Linked DNA regions of Homo sapiens: region 1 is linked to region 2. Evidence: fine-mapped expression QTL. A gene starts in region 2. The other region holds a variant in brackets. All regions are shown on one strand. Distances are from middle to middle.

Region 1 (11,362 bases), 33 kb before region 2:
CTGACCTCAAGTGATCCGCCTGCCTCAGCCTCCTAAAGTGCTGGGATTACAGGCATGAGTTACCGCATCCAGCCGATTTCTAAGGGTTTTGACTCCAGTCCCTGGCTCACTGACTGTATCTCTGGACCCACCTGGGACCTGAGGTAACTTGATGCCCTGAAGGGAAGGATGCAAGCATGGCTGCCTTTGGAACCTGCTAGTTTTAGAGCCCAAGGGCCTTGAGCAAACATAAGCAGTAGGCAGGTAGGTCGTGGTTACAGGAGGCCATGGGCAGGACCCAGCGCAATCCCAGTGATAGTAGGCATGGGGTGTTTGTGTCACCCCACTCCCAGCTCCAGGTAGCTCAGCAGAGAGAGAGAGACAGAGACAGAGAGAGAGAGAGAGAGAGAGAGAGAGAGAGGGAGAGAGAGAGACTGACTCTGTTTGAGAGAAAGCAAGGGAAGAGAGCAAGAGTCTCTGCCTGGTAATCCAGATAAATCTTCTGGATCTTATCTAAGACCACTAAGATAGTACCTCTATGAGTTTGCAAGAACCACAGCATTAATGGGCTTGGGGAGCCCCCTAATGCAGACATGGCTTAGATCACAACACCCAAGTACTTTTGAATACCTGGAAAGCCTCCCCAAAAAGGACAGGTACAAACAAGCCTTGTCTGCAAAGACTACAATAAATACCTAACATGGCCAGGCATGGTGGCTCATGTCTAATCCCAGCATTTTGGGAGGCTGAAGCAGGAAGATCACCTGAGGTCAGGAGTTTGAGACCAGGCTAGACAACATGGTGAAACCCTGTCTCTTCTAAAAATACAAAAATTAGCTGGGTGTAGGCTGGGTGCGGTGGCTCATGCCTGTAATCCCAGCACTTTGGGAGGCCGAGGCAGGTGGATCACCTGAGGTCAGGAGTTCGAGACCAGCCTGACCAATATGATGAAACCCTGTCTTTACTAAAAATACAAAAACTAGCTGGCATGCGCCTATAATCCCAGCTACTTGGGAGGCTGAGACAGGACAATCGCTTGAACTCAGGAGGCAGAGGTTGCAGTGAGCCAAGATGGCGCCATTACACTCCAGCCTAGGCAATAAGAGTGAAACTCCATCTCAAAAAAAAAAAAAAAATTTAGCCAGGGTGGTATCGGGTGCCTGTAGTCCCAGCTACTCGGGAGGCTGAGGCAGAATTACTTGCACCTGGGAGGCAGAGGTTGCAGTGAGCTGAGATCACACCATTGCACTGCAGCTTGGGCAACAAGAGCAAAACTCCATCTAAATAAATAAATAAATAAATAAATAAATAAATAAATAAATAACTCATCAATGCCCAGCCACCAATGAACATCTATAAGCATCAAGGCCATCCAGAATAAATGACCTTACCAAACAAATCAAATAAGCCACCAAGGACCAATCCTTGAAGAAACAGAGATATGTGACCTTTCCGACAGAGAATTTAAAATAGCTGTTTTGAGGAAACTCAAAGAAATTCAAGCTAACACACAGAAGGAATTCAGATTCCATCACATAAATTTAACAAAGAGATTGAAATAATTGAGAATCAGCTGGGTGCAGTGGCTCACGCCTGTAATCCCAGCACTTTAGGAGGCTGAGGCGGGCGGATCACCTGAGGTCGGGAGTTCTAGACCAGCCTGACCAACATGGAGAAACCCTGTCTCTACTAAAACTACAAAATTAGTGGGGCGTGGTTGCGCATGCCTGTAATCCCAGCCTGGGCAACAAGAGTGAAACTCGGTCTCAAAAAAAAAAAAACCAAAAAACAAAAACAAAAACAAACAAACAAAAAACAATACCCAATGATCTGTTGTCAACAAGAAACATACTTCACCTACAAATAAAACAGTAAGAGACTGGGTCCTGAAATGCGGGCCCACTTCATATGTGAGGGCAGGTGTCTAATCATGTCCTTTCTCCCTTCCCCCAGGCCCTTCACAGATACCTGCTGGTCTCTCCCACTTGGCCAAGGAAACACTTGTGGTTAATAAGTCTCAGAAAAGTTATGTGAAAGTTAAAAGTAAAACTGACAGCAGCTGAAGGATGGGGGGGTGGGAGGTGGTGACGGTGGAGGAGACCCCACCACCACTGCCACCCAAGTAGGGAGTGAGGAGCACCAGGAGCACAGGATGCTACTTCTGCCAACCCTACAAAAATACTCTGCACAAATCTTCAAAAAACATCCTTGTCCCACTGCGTCACCTGCGGACAGATTTCATGTCCTGGTCTCCTTCTAAACCTGGAGGTGGGGCATGAACAGGGTGGAGTCACAGGGGAAAGAAAATGAGGCCCCAGGACACCTGGGTTCACACCCAGGTCCCCAGCGATGTCTCCACCACCGCTGCTGCAACCCCTGCTGCTGCTGCTGCCTCTGCTGAATGTGGAGCCTTCCGGGGCCACACTGATCCGGTATGGTGACCCCATCTACCACCCCAACCTTAGGAGGGATTTTCTGCCTCTTGCCCTTTAAGTCTAGGACTCCCAGTTCAGTGATCCCCAAACTTGGCACCCAGGATCCCTAGAGCTTCTTTCTCAGCTTTCCAGATCTCTAAACCAGGCTGTCACCCCTAAGGGCTCCACTCTGACATCTCTTAAGACCAGATTTCTTTTTTTTGAGATGGAGTCTCACTCTGTTGCCCAGGCTGGAGTGCAATGGCATGATCTCAGCTCACTGAAACCTCTGCCTCCTGGGTTCAAGCGATTCTCCTGCCTCAGCTTCCCAAGTAGCTGGGATTACAGGCTCGCGCCACCATGCTCAGCTAATTTTTGTATTTTTAGTAGAGACGGGGTTTCACCATGTTGGCCAGGCTGGTCTGGAACCCCTGACCTCGTGATCCGCTCACCTCGGCCTCCCAAAGTGCTGGGATTACAGGCGTGAGCCACCGCGCCTGGCTGACCAGAGCCCTTTTATTATTATTATTATTATTATTATTATTTATTATTATTATTATTATTTGAGACAGAGTCTTGCTCTGTTACCCAGGCTGGAGTGCAGTGGGGCGATCTCAGCTCACTGCAACCTCTGCCTCCCGGGTTCAAGTGATTCTCCTGCCTCAGCCTCCCAAGTAGCTGGGACTACAGGCACATGCCACCACGCCCGGCTAATTTTTGTATTTTTAGTAGAGATGGGGTTTCGCCATGTTTGCCAGGCTGTCTTGAACTCCTGACCTCAAGTGATCTTTCCGCCTCAGCCTCCAAAAGTGCTGTGGTTACAGCTGTGAGCCCCCGCGTCCGGTCCCAGAGCCCTTTTAAGTCCCAGATCTTACAACACTGAGACTCTAGATTGAGGACCCCTCCCCCTCCTCTCAGGACTTTTTTTTTTTTTTTTTTTTTGAGACTGAGTCTCACTCTGTTGCCCAGGCTGGAGTGCAGTGGCGCAATCTTGGCTCACTGCAAGCTCTGTCCCCCGGGTTCACATCATTCTCCTGCCTCAGCCTCCCAAGCAGCTGGGACTACAGGCACCCGCCACCACGCCCGGCTAATTTTTTGTATTTTTAGTAGAGATGGGGTTTCACAGTGTTAGCCAGGATGGTCTCGATCTCCTGACCTCGTGATCCACCCACCTCAGCCTCGCAAAGTGCTGGGATTACAGGCGTAAGCCACCGCGCCTGGCCTTTTTTTTTTTTTTTTTTTGAGACGGAGTCTTGCCCTGTCGCCCAGGCTGGAGTGCAATGGCGCGATCTCAGCTCACTGCAACCTCCACCTCCCAGGCTGACACCATTCTCCTGCCTCTGAAAGTGCTGGGATTACAGGCGTGAGTCACCATGCCCGGCTAATTTTTTTTGTATCTTTAGTAGAGATGAGGTTTCACCATGTTGGCCAAGCTGGTCTTGAACTCCTGACTTCGTGATCTGCCTGCCTCAGCCTCCCAAAGTGCTGGGATTACAGGCGTGAGCCACTGCGCCTGGCCAGGACATGTTTTTGAGAGGTCTCTGCAGACCCTACTATGAGCTCTGATGATTAGGTACTGTGGTTTCCAGACCTGTGACACACTCCTCCCATCTTCGAGCCCCAGATATGTGACATTTAAACTGAGACTCCCCCACATCACGCCCATCAAACTGGCCTGAAGAAGTCATGTTTTTGGCCAGAGACATGGCTCACACCTGTAACCCAGCACTTTGGAAGTCCAAGGTGGGAAGCTTGTTTGAGGCCAAGAGTTTTGAGACCAGCCTGGGCAACATGGCCAGACTCCACCTCTACAAAAAATACAAAAATTAGCTCAGTGTGGTGGTGCACACCCATGGTCCCAGCTAGTTCAGGAGGGTGAGGAAGGAGGATTGCTTGAGCCCAGTAGTTCGAGGGGGCAGTGGGCTATGATCCTGCTACTGCACTCCAGGCTGGGCAACAGGGTGACACCTTGTCTAAAAAAAAAATTAATAAATAAAATAAAATAAAATAAAAAGCCAGGTGTGGTGGTGTGCCCATAGTCTCAGCTACTCCAGAGGCTGAGGTGGGAGAATCACTTGAGCCCTGGAGATCAAGGCTGCAGTGAGCCCTGACTGCACTACTGCACTCCAGCCTGGGTGACAGAGGGAGACCCTGTTTCAAATAAAAAGTTTAAAAGAAGAAAAAGAAATCCAATCTTGGGGACCCTATGCAAGAAGTCTTCCCACTACCTTACCTCTGATGTCCCCTCCCCGCCCCCATCTCTCTTTTTCTCCTCTCTTGTCTTCATTCCCTGGAACTC[T/C]TGGTAGGGGGAGGGGTGTACACTTCCAGGAAGAGTTTTCCCCACTTCACATTCTCGTGCCTCTCAAAGACTGACTCATGGGGGGTGACGGGAAAGGTGTGAGTGATGTGACAAGTGCTTCAAGGAGTGACTAAAGGCAGGAACGAAGATATTACCGCACATGGTGCTTGTTAACCTGCTTTTTGAACCTAATGTCTCATGGCCATTTTCTAAGTCAATGCAAAGAAAATGAGTCTCCAAATGTTGTATCAACAGCATCGTCATGACCTGGGAACTTGTTAGAAATCCAAATTCTCGGCTCCATCCTAGACCTACTTAATTAGCAACTAAGATACCTGAATTGTAATTGGCCCTCTAAGTCAAGGGTTGCAAACACTCAGCTTAAGGGCCAAATCCTGTTTGCCTCCTGCTTTTGCAAATACAGTTTAAAGGAACCCGGACAGGGCATAGTGGCTCTCCTCTGTAATCCCAGCACTTTAGGAGGCTGAGGCCAGGAGTTTGAGATCAGCACGGGCAACACAGCAAGACAATTAAGATTTGACGCTTACATTTTTCTCCTCAAGGGTGGGGAAAATAGTCCCTAACCTCACGAACTGAAGCATGCAGGGGCCACCACCCAAGGGCTTTTGCAAAGGTTAGGTTTTCTGTTAGGGTCTTGGGAAATCTTTAAGAATGTCAATTCCTTGGGAATAGCTTATTTTAAGGGATTTGGACATGGAAAGGTCTGTTTGGGATGGTTTGCTCTTGTAAAGTCTTTGGGGATATTTGTCATCATGGCATCTTTGATGGGCTTTTCTGGAGGTTGTTATTGCAGGGTTTCTGGTACTGACTACTATTGTAGTGCCTTGGAGATGTTGAATTTGTCATCATATCCTATTTGGGTAAGTCTATTTAGAGGTTCTCCAAGAAGGGCAGCTTCCTGTCAATATCCTCTTTCCCTACAGCATCCCTCTTCATCGAGTCCAACCTGGACGCAGGATCCTGAACCTACTGAGGGGATGGAGAGAACCAGCAGAGCTCCCCAAGTTGGGGGCCCCATCCCCTGGGGACAAGCCCATCTTCGTACCTCTCTCGAACTACAGGGATGTGAGTCACAGCCCCACACAGCCCTCACCCCTGCGCCCTTGAGCCAAACTCTTCGTTTACTCTCCTCTTTTGCTATCAGGTGCAGTATTTTGGGGAAATTGGGCTGGGAACGCCTCCACAAAACTTCACTGTTGCCTTTGACACTGGCTCCTCCAATCTCTGGGTCCCGTCCAGGAGATGCCACTTCTTCAGTGTGCCCTGCTGTGAGCTTCTATGTGGGAGAATAAGGCTGAATGGGGGTGAAGGGAGGAGGCGGGGCTGGACCTCAGCTTCTCAGAGGCTTTTGAGGAACTGTTCTTTTATCATGCCCTCACAGGTCAGAAAGTCAAAGGGGCAGTAGGCACTGGGGAGATTCCCTCCCCCATGACACCTTTCTGACCTCTAACCTAGGGTTACACCACCGATTTGATCCCAAAGCCTCTAGCTCCTTCCAGGCCAATGGGACCAAGTTTGCCATTCAATATGGAACTGGGCGGGTAGATGGAATCCTGAGCGAGGACAAGCTGACTGTGAGTGGCCTTTGACTCTCAGAAGTCTTGAGCCTGGGAGAACCCCATTGTCTAAGATCATCTGGCTTAGGAAGAGGCTCGAGGAGGAGCTTCCCAAGCCAATGGATGGGGCTTTTCAAGTGGGGAGGAGGGCCTGCCTTTCAGAGTGAAGGGATGGTGCGTCACAAGGAGGGGGAGGGGCTTCCTGGGTGAAGAGGTGGGGCTTCTCAAGCAGGGGGGAGGAGCTTCCAAGGTTAAGAGGTGGGGCTTCTCAAGCAGGGAGGAGGAGCTTCCTGGGTGAAGAGGTGGGGCTTCTCAAGCAGGGGAGGAGCTTCCTGGGTGAAGAGGTGGGGCTTCTCAAGGAGAAGAAAGGGGTTCCTGGGTGAAGGGGTGGGGCTTCTCAAGAGGCATAGTTTCCTAGGAAGTTGGGGCTTGCATCCAGAAGTCCCCAGACCTAGGATTCATGCCTTGGTTTGGGAGACCTCAGGACATGTGGTTATTGTCCTCCCAAAAGTAACTGGTCACATCTCAATCTACCCCTAGATTGGTGGAATCAAGGGTGCATCAGTGATTTTCGGGGAGGCTCTCTGGGAGCCCAGCCTGGTCTTCGCTTTTGCCCATTTTGATGGGATATTGGGCCTCGGTTTTCCCATTCTGTCTGTGGAAGGAGTTCGGCCCCCGATGGATGTACTGGTGGAGCAGGGGCTATTGGATAAGCCTGTCTTCTCCTTTTACCTCAACAGGTACTGGGAAGTGTGCACCTATCTATGAGTCCTATCCCCAAGAAGGAAGAGAGTCTTCCTTCAGGAAGTCACTGACCCAATGCAGGAATTCTCATTCTCAGAGTCACCCACTTACACTGTCCATTCAGGAAGTCAGCCATTCAATACAAGAAGTTGCATCCTCCATGCAGGAAGTCACCTGCCCTATAAAGAAACACCTCAACCCTATTCGAAGTCCCAGAGCTTAAATGACAACTTAAGACATACTAAGGAAACCCACCATCAGTTCAGAATGCTCCATGTTTCAAAATCAAACTAGGAAATTCCATGCCCCACCCAACAAAATACTCAGGAGCTTTCTCTTCCTCACAAAGAATGCTCAAATCCCATTTGAGAACACTGACCAGAAGTCAGGAATTGCCCGATTTAATCCAGGAAGTCCCACTCACCTGCTAGGAAGTTCAGTATTATGCTCAGAAGTCCCACCCAACATCCAAGAAGTTTCCAAGAAGTCTCCACTTTCCCTCCCAGAGGCCTGTCACACACAGTCAGAAAATCCTATGCCCACTCAGTTACCCTGACATCCAACCCACTCTAGCAGTTCTACCAACCACCTAGCAGATCCTGCTCTCCTCCACCTTCCAGGAAGTCTCCATCCCTGTTCCCATCGCTCTCAGCCAACTCAGGAAGTCTAACACCTCTCTAGATATCACAACAGGCAATTCAGAAATTCTCTTCTCCTACTCAGGAAGCCACCCCACCCCTGCACAAGTCACACCTTCAAGAGCCAATTCCAAGACACCACTGCTCTACTTGGTTACTATGATATTCAGCTCAGGAAATTCCCCAAAACTCTACCTTCCACAGCCAAATGAAGTCTCGTCTTCACTTCAGGAAGTTCTAGCTTCCACCAAGAAAAGCATCATGCTTTTCTTGCCCGGCTTCCAGTCCCAACATCTAGGCCCTTCCTGCATCCCATTACCCCGTAGGAACTCCAGAAACAACCCAGTTGGTGGGAAGTGCCATTCCTGGCAATACCTAGGGCTGAGGGAGGGCCAGTGACACTGACATCTACACTCTCTACACTCTGCCCCTGCAGGGACCCTGAAGAGCCTGATGGAGGAGAGCTGGTCCTGGGGGGCTCGGACCCGGCACACTACATCCCACCCCTCACCTTCGTGCCAGTCACGGTCCCTGCCTACTGGCAGATCCACATGGAGCGGTGAGGGACTTGGTCTCCTGGCTCTGGAGCTGGAGGCTGGGGGCCTGGACTCCTAGGACCCTGCCTCTGATGACTGCCTCCTTCCCCCTCAGTGTGAAGGTGGGCCCAGGGCTGACTCTCTGTGCCAAGGGCTGTGCTGCCATCCTGGATACGGGCACGTCCCTCATCACAGGACCCACTGAGGAGATCCGGGCCCTGCATGCAGCCATTGGGGGAATCCCCTTGCTGGCTGGGGAGGTGAGGTCCCAGTCTGGTGGGTACGGGCTGGGAAGGCTGATGGCAGTTTGACAGTGAACATCAAAGGGCCTGAGGGTGGGAGGCAAGTATTTAAGGGGCTTTCCAGGGCAGCAGGCACTGGACTTCGTGACAGATAGTCTGGAGGGTGGTGGAGGAATTGAGGACACTTTCCACGTGTCTACACTGCGACTCTGCGGATGGTGGCCGGGTGGAGGGAGACGATCATGCAGGTTTGCTTGGGACTGCGTAAGTCTAGGCGGCAGGGCCTCTGCACACAGGACGCTGAGTACCCAGGTGCTCAATAGGGAAATTACCCTATGGCACTGGGGAGCCACGGAAGGGACTGAACAGAGCAGGAATCTCTCATCTTCACTAGTTCCTCTTCTCCCCCAGTACATCATCCTGTGCTCGGAAATCCCAAAGCTCCCCGCAGTCTCCTTCCTTCTTGGGGGGGTCTGGTTTAACCTCACGGCCCATGATTACGTCATCCAGGTAGGTGGCCATCACCATGACGCCATAGTGACGTCATATGACGGTTTGAGAGGGTAGAGCTGAGAGACGTCACTAGGAAGGGAAGGGGCCACAGAAACATTTCTTTTCCCTGTGATGGCAGTTTGTTGGCGAACATCAAAGAACCCGAGGGTGGGGGGGATGGACGGGCTCCCAGGCAAATGGCCGTCCTTGTGGCCGCGACACCCAGTTGTCGTCTTGTTGCCTTGCAGACTACTCGAAATGGCGTCCGCCTCTGCTTGTCCGGTTTCCAGGCCCTGGATGTCCCTCCGCCTGCAGGGCCCTTCTGGATCCTCGGTGACGTCTTCTTGGGGACGTATGTGGCCGTCTTCGACCGCGGGGACATGAAGAGCAGCGCCCGGGTGGGCCTGGCGCGCGCTCGCACTCGCGGAGCGGACCTCGGATGGGGAGAGACTGCGCAGGCGCAGTTCCCCGGGTGACGCCCAAGTGAAGCGCATGCGCAGCGGGTGGTCGCGGAGGTCCTGCTACCCAGTAAAAATCCACTATTTCCATTGAGCGAACCTGCCTGGGTTGCTTCTTTTCAGAGCGTACTTTTTAACGAGAAAGCTTTGTGACCGGGCGCGGTGTCTCACGCCCGTAATCCCAGAACTTTGGGAGGTCGAGGCGGGTGGATCACCTGAGGTCAGGAGTTCGAGACCAACCTGGCCAACATGGTGAAACCCCGTCTCTACTAAAAATACAAAAAAAATTATCCGGGAGTGGTGGCGCATGCCTGTAATCCCAGCTACTCGGGAGGCTGAGGCAGGCGAATGGCTTGAACTTGGGAGGCCGAGGTTGCAGTGAGCCAAGACCGCACCATTGCACTCCAGCCTGGGCAACAACGAAACTCCATCTCAAAAATAATAATAGAAAACTTTGTGCCTGTACCCATGGAGTTGAGGAAGAGGGAGGCGAAGGGTATCACCCCTTTTCTCCAGGACGCACCCTGGTGAGGGGTTTTGTAATACGAGTCCCATGAAGCCCCTCGCCTACGCTACCTTCCGTCAAAAGCTCCCGGCGCCGTGGAGCATCACGGTCGTTGTAATCCACGCCGTGGTCACGCCCTGACGGGGGCGGGCGCAGCCACAACATGGGTGGGAGGCGACAGGTTGCGACGGCAGCGACAGGTGGCAGTGGGGGTTGGCCGTAATTGGTAAGGGTTTACCAGTTCCTGTTCAAGGGGGCAAGGATACCATTCCCCCGGATCTCATCTCCTGTTTCTCCTCTCTCCCTCCGGATTCCTAGACCCCTGGGGAGCTCGAGGCCCCCGGGTTCGGGGAGCGGTGCTGCCCCACCCGCGGAGGTGACGTCACTCTCCCCTCCTCAGCCTCTTGCTACCCAGAACTAAATGATTCGACAAAACGACCGGTCGAAAAATCTGGCAATCCTTTAATCGCATCCCGAGGCTTCTGGAAGAATTGTGTTGAGCGATTCTGGGGACCCCGAAAAGAGTCAGGCCTGAGCCCCATCTCGAGAGTGTGCTGCTCTGATGGTGGAGGCCGACCTGATCACAAACCGCTAAACTACTAAACACGGGGAGATTCAGGTCCCAGTAAGCTCGGGCAGGAGAGTCAGGGAGGAAGCCTCTGTTCTGCTCCTTTTCCCGTGGGATGCAGAGAGCGAGCAAGTCGGCATTCCAGGCCGGTGGGAACCGCTAGGGCGGAAGCAGGGAAGCTAGAAAGAGCCTGGTGTTCCAGGGGTCCAGCTCTAGAAACGGGTGGCGGCTGGGAAAACAGGCCCACACCTCCACCTTGTGGCCAATTGGGAATTTGCAGGCACGGCCTCTCAGAAACTACTTAAGGGCGCTTTGGGTGAAGTTGGATGGGGTGCTGCAGACGGAAAGCATGAGGGGCGAGTTGAAAGGGCCCAGATCGAGTGCTCTGACTGAGAAAACAAAGCGGGGGTGGTGGTGGTGGTGGTGAGAGTTATCATAGAGACACTGTCCACTGTTTCAGAAAAATTCCCCAGAGCAAGGAGTGCACAAAGTGGATCTTTACTATTATTATTATTATTATTTTATTATTGTTATTATTATTGAGACAGGGACTCACTCTGTCGCCCAAGCTGGAGTGCAGTGGCGCGGTAATGGCTCACTGTAGCCTCGAACTCCCCGGAGAAAGCGATCCTCCTGCCTCAGCCTCACGTGTAGCCGGGACCACAGGCGTGGGCCACCATGCTTGACTAATTTTTAAATATTTTGTGGAGATTTTTTTTTTTTGAGAGGGAGTTTTGCTCTTGTTGCCCAGGCTGGAGTGCAGTGGCACCATCTTGGCTCACTGCAACCTCTGCCTCCTGGGTTCCAGCGATTCTCCTGCCTCAACCTCCCGAGTAGCTGGGATTACAGGCATGTGCCACCACGCCCGGCTAATTTTTGTATTTTTAGTAGGGACGGGGTTTCTCTATGT
Region 2 (11,362 bases):
AGTGGCTGATGGAGGAGAGCTGGTCCTGGGGGGCTCAGACCCGGCACACTACATCCCACCCCTCACCTTCGTGCCAGTCACAGTCCCCGCCTACTGGCAGATCCACATGGAGCGGTGAGGGACTTGGTCTCCTGGGTCTGGAGCTGGAGGCCTGGACTCCTAGGACCCTGCCTCTAATGACTGCTTCCTTCCCCCTCAGTGTGAAGGTGGGCTCACGGCTGACTCTCTGTGCCCAGGGCTGTGCTGCCATCCTGGATACAGGCACACCTGTCATCGTAGGACCCACTGAGGAGATCCGGGCCCTGCATGCAGCCATTGGGGGAATCCCCTTGCTGGCTGGGGAGGTGAGGTCCCAGTCTCTGGTGGGTGTGTCCTGGGGAAGATGATGGCAATTCCATGGCGAACACTGCGGCCTGAGGATGGGAAGCAGGTAGCTAGAGCGTATCCAGGACAGAGGGGACTGGGCTTCTTAAGTGACATGCCAGAGAGTGGTGGGAGGAAGCAAAGATACTTCCCAAGTGTCTATGCTAAGTGGCTCAGTGGATGGTGAAGTAGGGGTGGGAGTGGGGGGGGGGTTGTTGGGGGAGATGATAATGCAGTTTTGTTTGGGACTAGATGAGAGGAGCCTAGGCAACAGGGCTGTCCACACACGGTGCTGAATACCCAGGTGCTCAATATGAACATTACTCCATGGCACTGGGGAGCCACGGACGGGATTTGAGCAGAGCAGGAATCTCCCATCTTCACTTGTTCCTCTCCTCCACCAGTACATCATCCGGTGCTCAGAAATCCCAAAGCTCCCCGCAGTCTCACTCCTCATTGGGGGGGTCTGGTTTAATCTCACGGCCCAGGATTACGTCATCCAGGTAGGTGTCCGTCATAATGACGCCACAGTGATGTAATATGACTGGAGTTGAGAGGGTGGAGCTGGTAGTTGGACATCACTAGGGCCGGAAGGGGCCACAGAAACATTTCTTGTCCCCGGGGTTGGGGGCGGAGAGAGCACGGACTCCCAGGGAAATGGTGGTTCCTGCGGCCTGGACACCCAGTTGCCGCCTTGTCGCCTTGCAGTTTGCTCAGGGTGACGTCCGCCTCTGCTTGTCCGGCTTCCGGGCCTTGGACATCGCTTCGCCTCCAGTACCTGTGTGGATCCTCGGCGACGTTTTCTTGGGGGCGTATGTGACCGTCTTCGACCGCGGGGACATGAAGAGCGGCGCACGAGTGGGACTGGCGCGCGCTCGCCCTCGCGGAGCGGACCTGGGAAGGCGCGAGACCGCGCAGGCGCAGTACCGCGGGTGCCGCCCAGGTGATGCGCATGCGCACCGGGTAGCAGAGCTAGCGCTACTCAGTAAAAATCCAATATTTCCATTGAACGAACCTGCCTAGGTTGCTTCTTTTCAGAGCGTACTTTTTGAAGAGAAAGCTTTGTGCATGGACCCACGGAGTTGAGGAAGAGAGGGAGGCGAAGGGTATCACCCCTTTTCTCCACGGCGCACCCTTGTGATGGGCCTTGTACTACGAGTCCCATGAAGGCCCTCGCCTACGCTGCCTTTCGTCAAAGGCTCCTGGCTCCGTGGAGCATCACGGTCGTTGTAGTCCACGCCGTGGTCACGCCCTGACGGGGGCGGGCGCAGCCACAACATGCGTGGGAGGCGACAGGTCGCGACGGCAGCCACAGGTGGCAGTCGGGGGTGGCTGTAATTGGTAAGGGTTTACCAGTTCCTGTTCTAAGGGGCGGGGATACCGTTCCCTCGGACCTCGTCTCCTGTTTCTCCTCTCTGCCTTGGCATTCCAGGACCCCGGGGTCCGCCATAAAGGCGGAGCTTGAAGCCCCTGGGTTGGGGGAGCGGTGCTGCCCCTCCTCCGGCGGTGATGTCACTCCCCCCTCTGCAGCCTCTTGCTGCCCAGAGCTGCCGGGGCTGGGTCACCCCTCCCCCCATCTCGAGCCCCGGATTCCCCCATCCCCACCTCGCCTCGACTTGGGGTGAGTACGGGGGAGGGGGCGAAGGCTCAGGGTCCGGGGGCGGTAAGACAGCCCGAATCCTAGTTTTGGAGACGGGGGACTTGGGATCCAGGGACCCAAAGATTATAGCGGGGAGATTCCCCTCGACTCTGAGCTTTCGGGGCCAAGGTACTTGGAGGGTTTTAGGGGACGAAGGATCGTAGGCAGAGAGTCCTCACATTTTCACCTTTGGTGTCCAGAGACCAAGGCTCCGAATGGAACCGGGTGGGAATGGGGGCAGAGGAACAAGGAAGGGGTCGTAGAAGTCAGGGAGGGAAGACCCTTCCCCAATTCCAGGGCCTGGGGTAATGGGGGAGGGAGGGTTATCAGGGGACGCCGAAGATGACGTAGATGGGAGTTGGAGCTTTCAGGAATTTTGTGTCTTGAGGGCCTGGGAACGGATGGATTGGGAGGAGCAGGGGTGGGGAAAGGAACTGAAAACGAGACAGACGTTGGCCTCTCCCCTCCTGGTGTCCCTAGTCAAGAGTCGAGTCTACTTCCTCCTGGTCTGTGAACATAGCTGAGTGTCCAGTATTTGGAGCCCTCATGAAGCTTCCAGAAGCCCCCTCCTCTCTAATGGGTGGGTGGAGACTCCAGGCTCACAAATCCTCCCATAGACCCTGGTGGGGTCTGTGGAGGGCCATGAGGGAGTGCTGGCATCCAAGTTTCCCAGGGCCTGATGGAATGTGGACGGACCAGCCTGCTACTCCCGGCCCGCTGCCTCTTCCCCTCCCATGGCCTCTAATCCTGAGTCGCATCGCACATTCCTCCTTATTCCAGCCCCTTTTCCCCACAGCCCCCACCTTCTCCCACACTTCTGACCTCTGCAAAAAAACGCTGATTTAGCCACTTGATACCGTGCCTGGCTGCTGTGAAAAGCAGAAGGGAAAAGCAGGGTTGAGGGGGGAGTGTGGAGGAGGATGGCGACCGAGGTCCTTACCTAGCCCATAGTGCCTACCCAGCCCTTGCTCCTGCCTCCACCACCCCACCCCCAATTGCCCAGGAGCCTCATCCAGCCCCAGCCCAGTCCCTCACCTCAGGATTCTCTGCTTCTGCCTGGGGGTGCACCAGAATTCGGGGAAGGGGTAGGAAGTACCTATGTCTTTTCTGTGCCCTCTTGGATTCCATCAGAAGCTGAAGGACATGATGGATTGGGTGCAATGGAGAGCCCTGGGTCTGGGGAGTGAGGGCAACGACCTTCCTGGGCTGCAGGACAGGCCCCACTTCTGCAACTCTCTCTGCAGTGACGCAGTCCCAGCTAGGACGGGGGTTAGAGAGGGTGATGGGGGGTCTGAGAAAAAGGAACGGAGACCCAGAGAGAGGGGGACAGGGTCCCCAGGAAGTGGAGACAGAGACCTAGAAAGAGAGAGACCCAGAAGAAGGTGAAACATAGGAGGAATAGAGACTCAGGGAGGGGACATAGAGAAAGTGAAGAGGCAGAAACTTAGAGGGAGAGAGAGAAGAACAGAGAGCCAGCAAGAGAAAGAGCAGAGACAGAGGAGGGAAAGAGACGGAAGAGGGGGAAATACACCAGAGATGGGGAGAAGGGGAAGAAGGAGGGGGAAATACACCAGAGATGGGGAGAAGGGGAAGAAGGAGGGGGAAATACACCAGAGATGGGGAGAAGGGGAAGAAGGAGGGGGAAATACACCAGAGATGGGGAGAAGGGGAAGAAGAAGGGGGAGGGGAAAGAGGTTGTCAGAGAGCAAGGAGGAGACAGACTCAGATGAAAGGGCAGAGACCCAGAGAGGAGGCAGGACAAAGCGGGTTGCGGGGAGGGAGTAGAGGACAGGGACACAAGACCCAGGGAGTGCGGTACAGAGCCCCAGACAGAGAGGCACACCCCTGATAAAATGGTACAGAAACCAAGAGAAAGAGACTCGGGGGAGCTGGGGTGGGGGGGCGGGGACTGAGACACCAGGGAGGAGAGACTGAGGCCTAGAGAGAAGAGGAGCAAAGACTCAGAAGGAGGGGGACAGAATCAGAGACCCAGGAGGGCAGATTTACAAACGAGGGGTCGGAGACTCAGAGGGGTGGGAACAGAGACGGCGGCACAAATACTCAAGAAGGGAGAAAAAGAGACGCCAAGAAACCCAGAAACGGGAGCGGGGGTGGGATGGGGTTGGGAGGCGATACGAATCAGCCGCCGCACCTGCAGCAGGAAGCGGCGGGCCAGAAACTGTGCTGCCCGAGGGCGCCCGCAGCCCCCTGACCCGCCCCCTTCGCTCCCGCAGGCGCCGCCTCCTCCCTCCGCAGCCCCAGCCGCAGCCGCTGGCCCCGCCCCAGCCCCCTGAGCCTGCGCTCTGCCTCTCGGAGCCTACGACCGCCCAGGGGGCGGGGACGGCCCGCTCCGAGGCGGTCCCCTTTTTCTGGCCCCGCCCCTCACTCCATTCTTCCCCAGAACCCGACCTCTGAGACTCCTAGCCCACCCCATTTTTTATCGGTCCTGCCTATATTGCCTCAGTCTTGACGGTGCTTCCTGGCGCTTTGGCCTCTCCCCTCTCCCGTCCTCTCTGCCTCCTTGCGTGCCCCCTCCTCACCAGTCCTCATCTACCCTCGGTCCTCCAATCTGCAGTCCGCCGCGGTGTAGCGTTCGTTAGAAGTTCTCGCCTCGCCCTTTGAGACCCTGTGACCTTTAGGCAGTGCCCTCTCCCAGGTCTTCTGATCCCGAAGACTCCCCGTTCCAGGTCCCTCCCCTCCATCCAGCCCAGTAGCTTTGTACTCTTTGTAGTCTCATTGTTCCCCTGGGATCCACCTCTCCCGTTCCTCTACCCTCCCTTAGCCCTGCCCTGCCCTCGCCTACCCTGGTTGCTTTCAAGACCCTCAAGCCCCGCTCCTTCCTTAGTCTCTCTTTCCTACCGCCCATTCAAGACGTTTTCTTTTTCTTTTATTTATTTATTTTTTGACACAGAGTCTCGCTCTGTCGCCCAGGCTGGAGTGGAGTGGTGCGATCTCGACTCATTGCAACCTCTACTTCCCAGGTTCAAGCGATTCTCCTGCCTCAACCTCCCGACTAGCTGGGACTACAGGCACCCACAACCACGCCCGACTAATTTTTGTATTTTTAGTAGAGGCGGGGCTTCACCATTTTGGCCGGGCTGGTCTCGAACTCCTGACCTCAAATGATCCACCCACCTCAGCCTCGCAAAGTGCTGGCGTTACAGGCGTGAGCCACTGCGCCCTGCCTCAAGACGTTTTCTATTTGTCGACCCCACTCACCTTCCTCAGTACCACTCATCCATCCGGACACTCATTCTCCGGGCCCAGCCCCGACTAACCAGGCCCGCCTTGGAGCCTCAGCCCCGCTCCCTCCCTTAGGCCTATCCAGACCCTCTCGGGTTTCCAGGACTCTCTCAAGTTTCAACACCTTCTCACCGAGTCTAAGTCTTTGTTCTTCCCGTGTCCTCTTTCAGTCCAGCCTGTCCCCCTTGCGCGGGAAAGTCCTCCATCTCTAGTTCCCGCCCCATGCAGTCTCATCTGGACCGTTTCTACTTTCTGCGGCCCTGTCTCTTCCAAGCAATGCTCCTCCCCACCAGGTCCTGCCTAGCGGTGTTTTAGGTGAGGGCGTGCGATCTGTTTTGTTTCTCTCCGCCCCTTTCTCAGCCCAATCAGGACGGCCTCTCTCATGGTGGCCCCGCCCCTCCAGGCCAGTCGGGCGTCTTTAAATAGCTTGGATGTGTCCCCTCCTCCCTCTACCCCGCCCGCACTTTTTTCAGTTCAGTAAGGTCTCTCTCTATCGTATCTAGCCCCGCCTTCCCCTGGCTACCAGTGCTGCCGAACACAATTAGTAGTAACCGGTCCCGCCTCCCTTGACGCCCCGCCCCGCCCCTCCTCCCTGCTCTCTTAGAAAGAGCCAATCGCTCCGTCTCATTGGCGGCCCCGACTCGTCCAGCTGGGTCGCGTTAGAGTGCCCGCCCCACTCCTCCCAGCCACAGCCCCGCCCCACCTCCCCCAGGCCAATCAGTTTGGTTCCTCTCCCCTAAGCCACGCCCCCGCTACCTCGCTCCTCCTCCCACCCAATCCCGTCGGTCTCTCCCCCCGTGTCCCCGCCCCTGCGTCCCCGCCCCTCCCGCCCCGCCCCCCGTCCAATGCTGAGCTCAGTCTGCGTCTCGTCCTTCCGCGGGCGCCAGGGGGCCAGCAAGCAGCAGCCGGCGCCACCGCCGCAGCCGCCCGAGTCCCCGCCGCCGCCACCGCTGCCGCCGCAGCAGCAGCAGCCTGCGCAGCCCGGCCCCGCCGCGTCCCCGGCGGGCCCCCCGGCACCCCGCGGGCCCGGGGACCGGCGCGCCGAGCCATGCCCCGGGCTGCCGGCGGCGGCCATGGGGCGGCACGGCGGCGGCGGTGGCGACAGCGGCAAGATCGTGATCAACGTGGGCGGCGTGCGCCATGAGACGTACCGCTCGACGCTGCGCACCCTGCCGGGGACGCGGCTGGCCGGCCTGACGGAGCCCGAGGCGGCGGCACGCTTCGACTACGACCCGGGCGCCGACGAGTTCTTCTTTGACCGGCACCCGGGAGTCTTCGCGTACGTGCTCAACTACTACCGCACCGGCAAGCTGCACTGCCCAGCCGACGTGTGCGGGCCCCTGTTTGAGGAGGAGCTCGGCTTCTGGGGCATCGACGAGACCGACGTGGAGGCCTGCTGCTGGATGACCTACCGGCAGCATCGCGACGCTGAGGAGGCGCTCGACTCCTTCGAGGCGCCCGACCCCGCGGGCGCCGCCAACGCCGCCAACGCCGCAGGCGCCCACGACGGAGGCCTGGACGACGAGGCGGGCGCGGGCGGCGGCGGCCTGGACGGAGCGGGCGGCGAGCTCAAGCGCCTCTGCTTCCAGGACGCGGGCGGCGGCGCCGGGGGGCCGCCAGGGGGCGCGGGCGGCGCGGGCGGCACATGGTGGCGCCGCTGGCAGCCCCGCGTGTGGGCGCTCTTCGAGGACCCCTACTCGTCGCGGGCTGCCAGGGTGAGCGCGCTCTCGGGGCCCCCATCCACCCCACCCCCGCCTCTCCAGGCGCCCCCAGTCTCCCAGGAGCGCCCCAGCTCCAACCCTCCGGGTCCCTCTAGGCTTCTCAGTCTCCTAGAAGCCTCTTCCCCAATCCTGAGTCTCCTGGGCTCCTCCGAACACACCCCCCTCTCGCAGCCATCCCCCAGATCCTCCAAAGACGGATCTCCAACCTTCGGGCTCTTCCAGACCCCTCCAAAGTTCCCCCTCCCCCGCCAAGGCCACCCTAGACGCTTAGACACTTCCTCCAGACCGTGAATCTCCCGTGCTTCTCTGAACAACCCGGTCCCCACCTTTCCTGGGCTCCTCTGAGACCCTCCCCAACCCTCATGTCTCCTGGGCCCCATCAAATCTCTTCTCACTACTCTTGGTCACCGTCCAGCCCTTGGTTTCTTGGACCTTCCCCAGCCCCTCAGAAGACATCCCTTCTCAGCCCTCAAATTCTCCTAGGCCCTGTGAGCCCTGACCCCCACTTTCCCTGCCTTCTCCAGACTCTCTGGGGCCCCCTATTCAACTCTCAGTCTCTCCCAGCACCTCCCCGATTCACCCCGTGGCCCGTCTCCCAGAAGACCTCTCTCTCCAAGTTTGAATCTTCTGATTATTTTTTCCACTCCCTTCCTGCAGTATCTTCTGCTCTCAGAGTCTCAGAAAACTCCCCCACCCCAACCTCACAGCCTTCTGGACCCCTCTAAACCTCCACTTGTTCTTGCCTGGACATTTTCACCTCCCCCTCACTGCAATACTGAGTCTTGGGGCATCTTCTCCGTTGGAACCTCCAGGCCCCCTCTGTGTTCACTCTGTGTTTAACACTCTTCAACCTCCACGCCAACTCCCATCTCAAGGACTTTCCCCATAAAGCTCCAGACTTCCCCCAAGCCTTTCACACTCCTCCTCAGTGCCTCCAGAAGCATCCCATGCCCCCATCATATGCCTTTCCTCTCCAGAACCCTCACATGTCCTCCAGAATTGTTCTTCCTCCTCCATAGATCCTCGCAGCTTCTCCTCTCCATCATTTTAACTGCACAGTGCACTCTCTATCCCTGGGACTCCCCCCATCCAAAGCCCCCACAGCCCGTTTCCTAGTCTAAGTGACTTTCCCTCCTGCTCTAGAACTTTTTCTAACCTCAAACCCTGGGAGGCCCCTCAAGTCATCAGCCCTAAAACTTTCATCTCAAAATAACTTACAATTCTTTCTACCTTGCCCTGGGATTCCTTCCACCTGCCCTCTTCCTTTCTCGAACCTCCCCCCCCGCCGTGCAAAACCCAGAACCTAGCCCCTCAGTCTGTCCCCCTCCATCAAAGTGAACCAAAGAGCCTTCTCTCTCTCTCCAAATTCTAGATTTTCCCCAAAGCTCTCTCCATCGCTCCCAGAAAACTTTCCTCAAGCATCCATAACTTCCTAGGCTAAATGACTACCCTCCCCCTGGGTTCTCTCCTGAACCATTTCCTCCTACTAACTTCCTCCCTGTCCCGGGGACCCCGGAGGGAGAATGTGGTGGAAAAGGGGGGCAGTGCAAAATGGGGGCAATTGGAAATGGGGGAAATAAGAGCGATCCCAAGACCCCCTCCTGGGCTCCTGGGTACCCAAACACAGAGGAGCAGGTCTTGGCCCCCTCCCCCCACCGTGCCGCGTCCTGAGCCGGGAAGGACGCGGAGCCGCAGTGCCGCATTCGCGCCGGGGGAGGGAGCGGGGGGACGCCTGGAGCCACCGCATAAAGTTTGGTCCCCAGAAAGCGCTGAGTTGGCGAGATTTGGGGTTGGATGGGGGGAGGTGGGGAAGAGGAGGTGCGGAAGGGACATGGCCCTGGATGCCCCCTCAAGACACTGAGCGGCTCCTTCCCCCATGGCCGGGGCGCCCTTCTCTCCTGTGACCCCATTGAAGGGTGCTGAGATGAGGAGCGGGATGAAGTTAGAGTTCTTCTGTGATGGTCAGGCTAGGTGTTCGGGACAGCTACGGGAGATACTCATTTACTCCGCCAATGTGTTTTGGGTGTCCAAGGTGTGCCGAGCCCTTTCCAGCCTCCCAGTGATATGGCTTGAGAGAGTTGGGAGCTGAGGCCAAAGCAAAGTGGAGGGTCCGACCCTACAGCCCCCTGCCCCCGCCCCCTTCCTCGTAATCACTCCTTTCCTTCTTACAGAGACTCCATGCCCTCCTACCCCTTCTGCTTTTGACACACTCTGGAGTAAGGGGTTAAACCAGCCCGACGCCGTCCAGCCTCTGCAGCTGCGCACTGCGGCGGGTGCCCACCTTTCCCTGTGCCCTGGGAGGGAAGGAGTTAATTAGACTCTTGGCCCTTGGCCTCCCGCCGGAAAGCAGCAACACTGCGGCTGCGCGTTGAATAGGCTCCGGCCCGGAAGGGGTTAAGACGGCCCCTAGCCGCTGCGGCTGCGCACTGCGGCGGGGGAGCTGTCCGCGGTACTGGCCGCCGTGCGCCCCGCCCCCCGGCCCGGCTGGCCCGCCCCCACTGCGGTGCCGCAGCTAGCGCCGCGCGCCCGGCTCGGAGGGGGCGGGGAACTAGGCATGCGCTCTGCGAAGGCCTCTGGCCTCTTAAACCACTGCAGAGAAGCGAAGGTGGGGGTGGGGGGGGAGTTCAGAGAGGACCTGCGCCGGCCCCCAGCCCACCCCAACGTCCAGGGTCCTCTCTGTGGCCCCGAAACTCTCCACCCACTACTTCCCAGCTCTGCACCTCAGTGAAGTCAAGCCCAGAGCCCAACCCCTGTGGAGGAAGGGGGGTGCACAGAGGGACAGTGCTGGCCCTTGGCCCACCCCAAAGTCCAAGGTCCTCTCTGTGGTCCAGCAGTGGCCTCCCCGTGCTCTGTGCCCCTGATTAATAGCAAAACTCCCCATGCCCTCCCTCCTCCACTACCCGCAGGATTAAAACCCTCTCTTTACTATAACACCTGTCTTCCTTCCCTCTCCAATGCACTCCTCTCCCCTCCCACCCCTCTGCATATCTGATAAAGCCCATGACATCTCTAGGGGCCTGGCCCATTGCTTTCCTTCTCCAAGACCCTGACCCCACTCCCTCCTCTTCTAGGCCTTCATCAAAACCCACATCACTGTGTGGCAGGACTCTGGTTATCCCCCATCTTGAAATGGCTCAGGACCCTTCACCCCTCATTCTCTGCCCCTTTGGCAAATGCCCTAACTTCTCTTTGGCCCTGGCTCTGCCTTTTCCCACAATGTCCAGGCCAGTGACTCTCCTTCCTCTTCAGGGCCCTAAACCCTGCCTGACTCTCCTCTTTTATCTCCTCTTCCATTTTTGCAGGCTTAACCCTTCAACCCCTCCTCCCTTAAGGGCCCGGACCCCCACCTCCCCTCTGTGGCACCACCACTGCCCTGTCCTCTCTGGGTGAGGCCTTGACCTTGCCCCCCAACTAACTGCTGCCTGCATACCCTAACAACAGCTCAGGTCTTCTTACTGTGTTCCAGGCACTGCTCCAAGCACTGTGTTTGGAGCCAAGTCCTTCGTACGCTCATCTAATTTAATCCTCACAACAATCCCACTACAAACTTCTGGTTCAGAAAGCTCAGTCTCCTTGCCCAGTTTTGACAGGTTAAAAGCCAGATTCATGCCCAGGCTCGCCGACTCTTAACCACCTCACGATTCTGCCTCCCTGCCCGCCTTCTCCCTTCCCGTCTGCCCAGCTCCAAGCTGAGCCCTAAAGCCTCCGAGACACACAGGATGTGTGATCTTAGGCCTGGCGGCTCCCGTCCCACAGCAGAACCCGTGGACCCTGCTGGGGGGCCCTGAAATAGGACACAGGGAACAGGAGGGTGGGGGGAGGTGGTCTAGGAAACAGCAAGGGGCCAGAAATGTTTCCAAGGAAAGAAGCTGCCCATCTGCTGCGTCTGCTGGGGCCAGCTCTTCTCCAACTGCCTCTGTTCCTTTCTCTCCCTTTTTGCTAGCTTTAGAGGGGAGAATGGGATTCTGGAAGTGATGGAGCCACAGGGCTGAGACACCTGGATTTTGCCCAGAGTTTGGGCCCAGGAGGCTGGGGAAGGGGGCACTGGAAGGGTCTTCTGGATGTTATGGCCAACCTGATGCCTAGGTCACCTCTCCCCCTCTCTCTCCCTCCCTGCCCTGCAGTATGTGGCCTTCGCCTCCCTCTTCTTCATCCTCATCTCCATCACCACCTTCTGCCTGGAAACCCATGAGGGCTTCATCCATATTAGCAACAAGACGGTGACCCAGGCCTCCCCGATCCCCGGGGCACCTCCGGAGAACATCACCAACGTGGAGGTGGAGACGGAGCCCTTCCTGACCTACGTGGAGGGGGTGTGCGTGGTCTGGTTCACCTTCGAGTTCCTCATGCGCATCACCTTCTGCCCAGACAAGGTGGAGTTTCTTAAAAGCAGCCT

Evidence for each region.
Region 1: its variant is fine-mapped to the expression of KCNC3 in whole blood (TOPMed, PIP above 0.99).

Annotation. Positions count from the first base shown.
Region 1 is chr19:50,356,588-50,367,949 of GRCh38, reverse strand. NAPSA (napsin A aspartic peptidase) reads left to right here and starts at 2,311. Exons shown (of 9, transcript NM_004851.3): 1 at 2,311-2,411; 2 at 5,637-5,778; 3 at 5,858-5,981; 4 at 6,169-6,287; 5 at 6,810-7,009; 6 at 8,088-8,210; 7 at 8,303-8,447; 8 at 8,841-8,939; 9 at 9,170-9,473. The coding sequence starts at 2,329. The coding sequence ends at 9,397. All of the region lies in intron 3 of LOC105372437 (a long non-coding RNA gene), which reads right to left. RefSeq lists an enhancer at 1,961-2,110. The variant T/C (reference allele first, on the strand shown) is at 4,693.
Region 2 is chr19:50,323,811-50,335,172 of GRCh38, reverse strand. It overlaps KCNC3 (potassium voltage-gated channel subfamily C member 3), which reads left to right and starts at 5,796. Exons shown (of 5, transcript NM_004977.3): 1 at 5,796-6,960; 2 at 11,091-11,362. The coding sequence starts at 6,091. LOC105372437 (a long non-coding RNA gene) reads right to left here and starts at 5,553. Exons shown (of 4, transcript XR_007067299.1): 1 at 5,378-5,553. It also overlaps the pseudogene NAPSB. RefSeq lists enhancers at 603-1,555, 3,066-3,165, 3,476-3,525, 5,787-6,081, 8,658-9,179 and silencers at 4,106-4,475, 4,489-4,668, 5,546-5,605, 5,686-6,235, 6,844-6,933 and 2 more.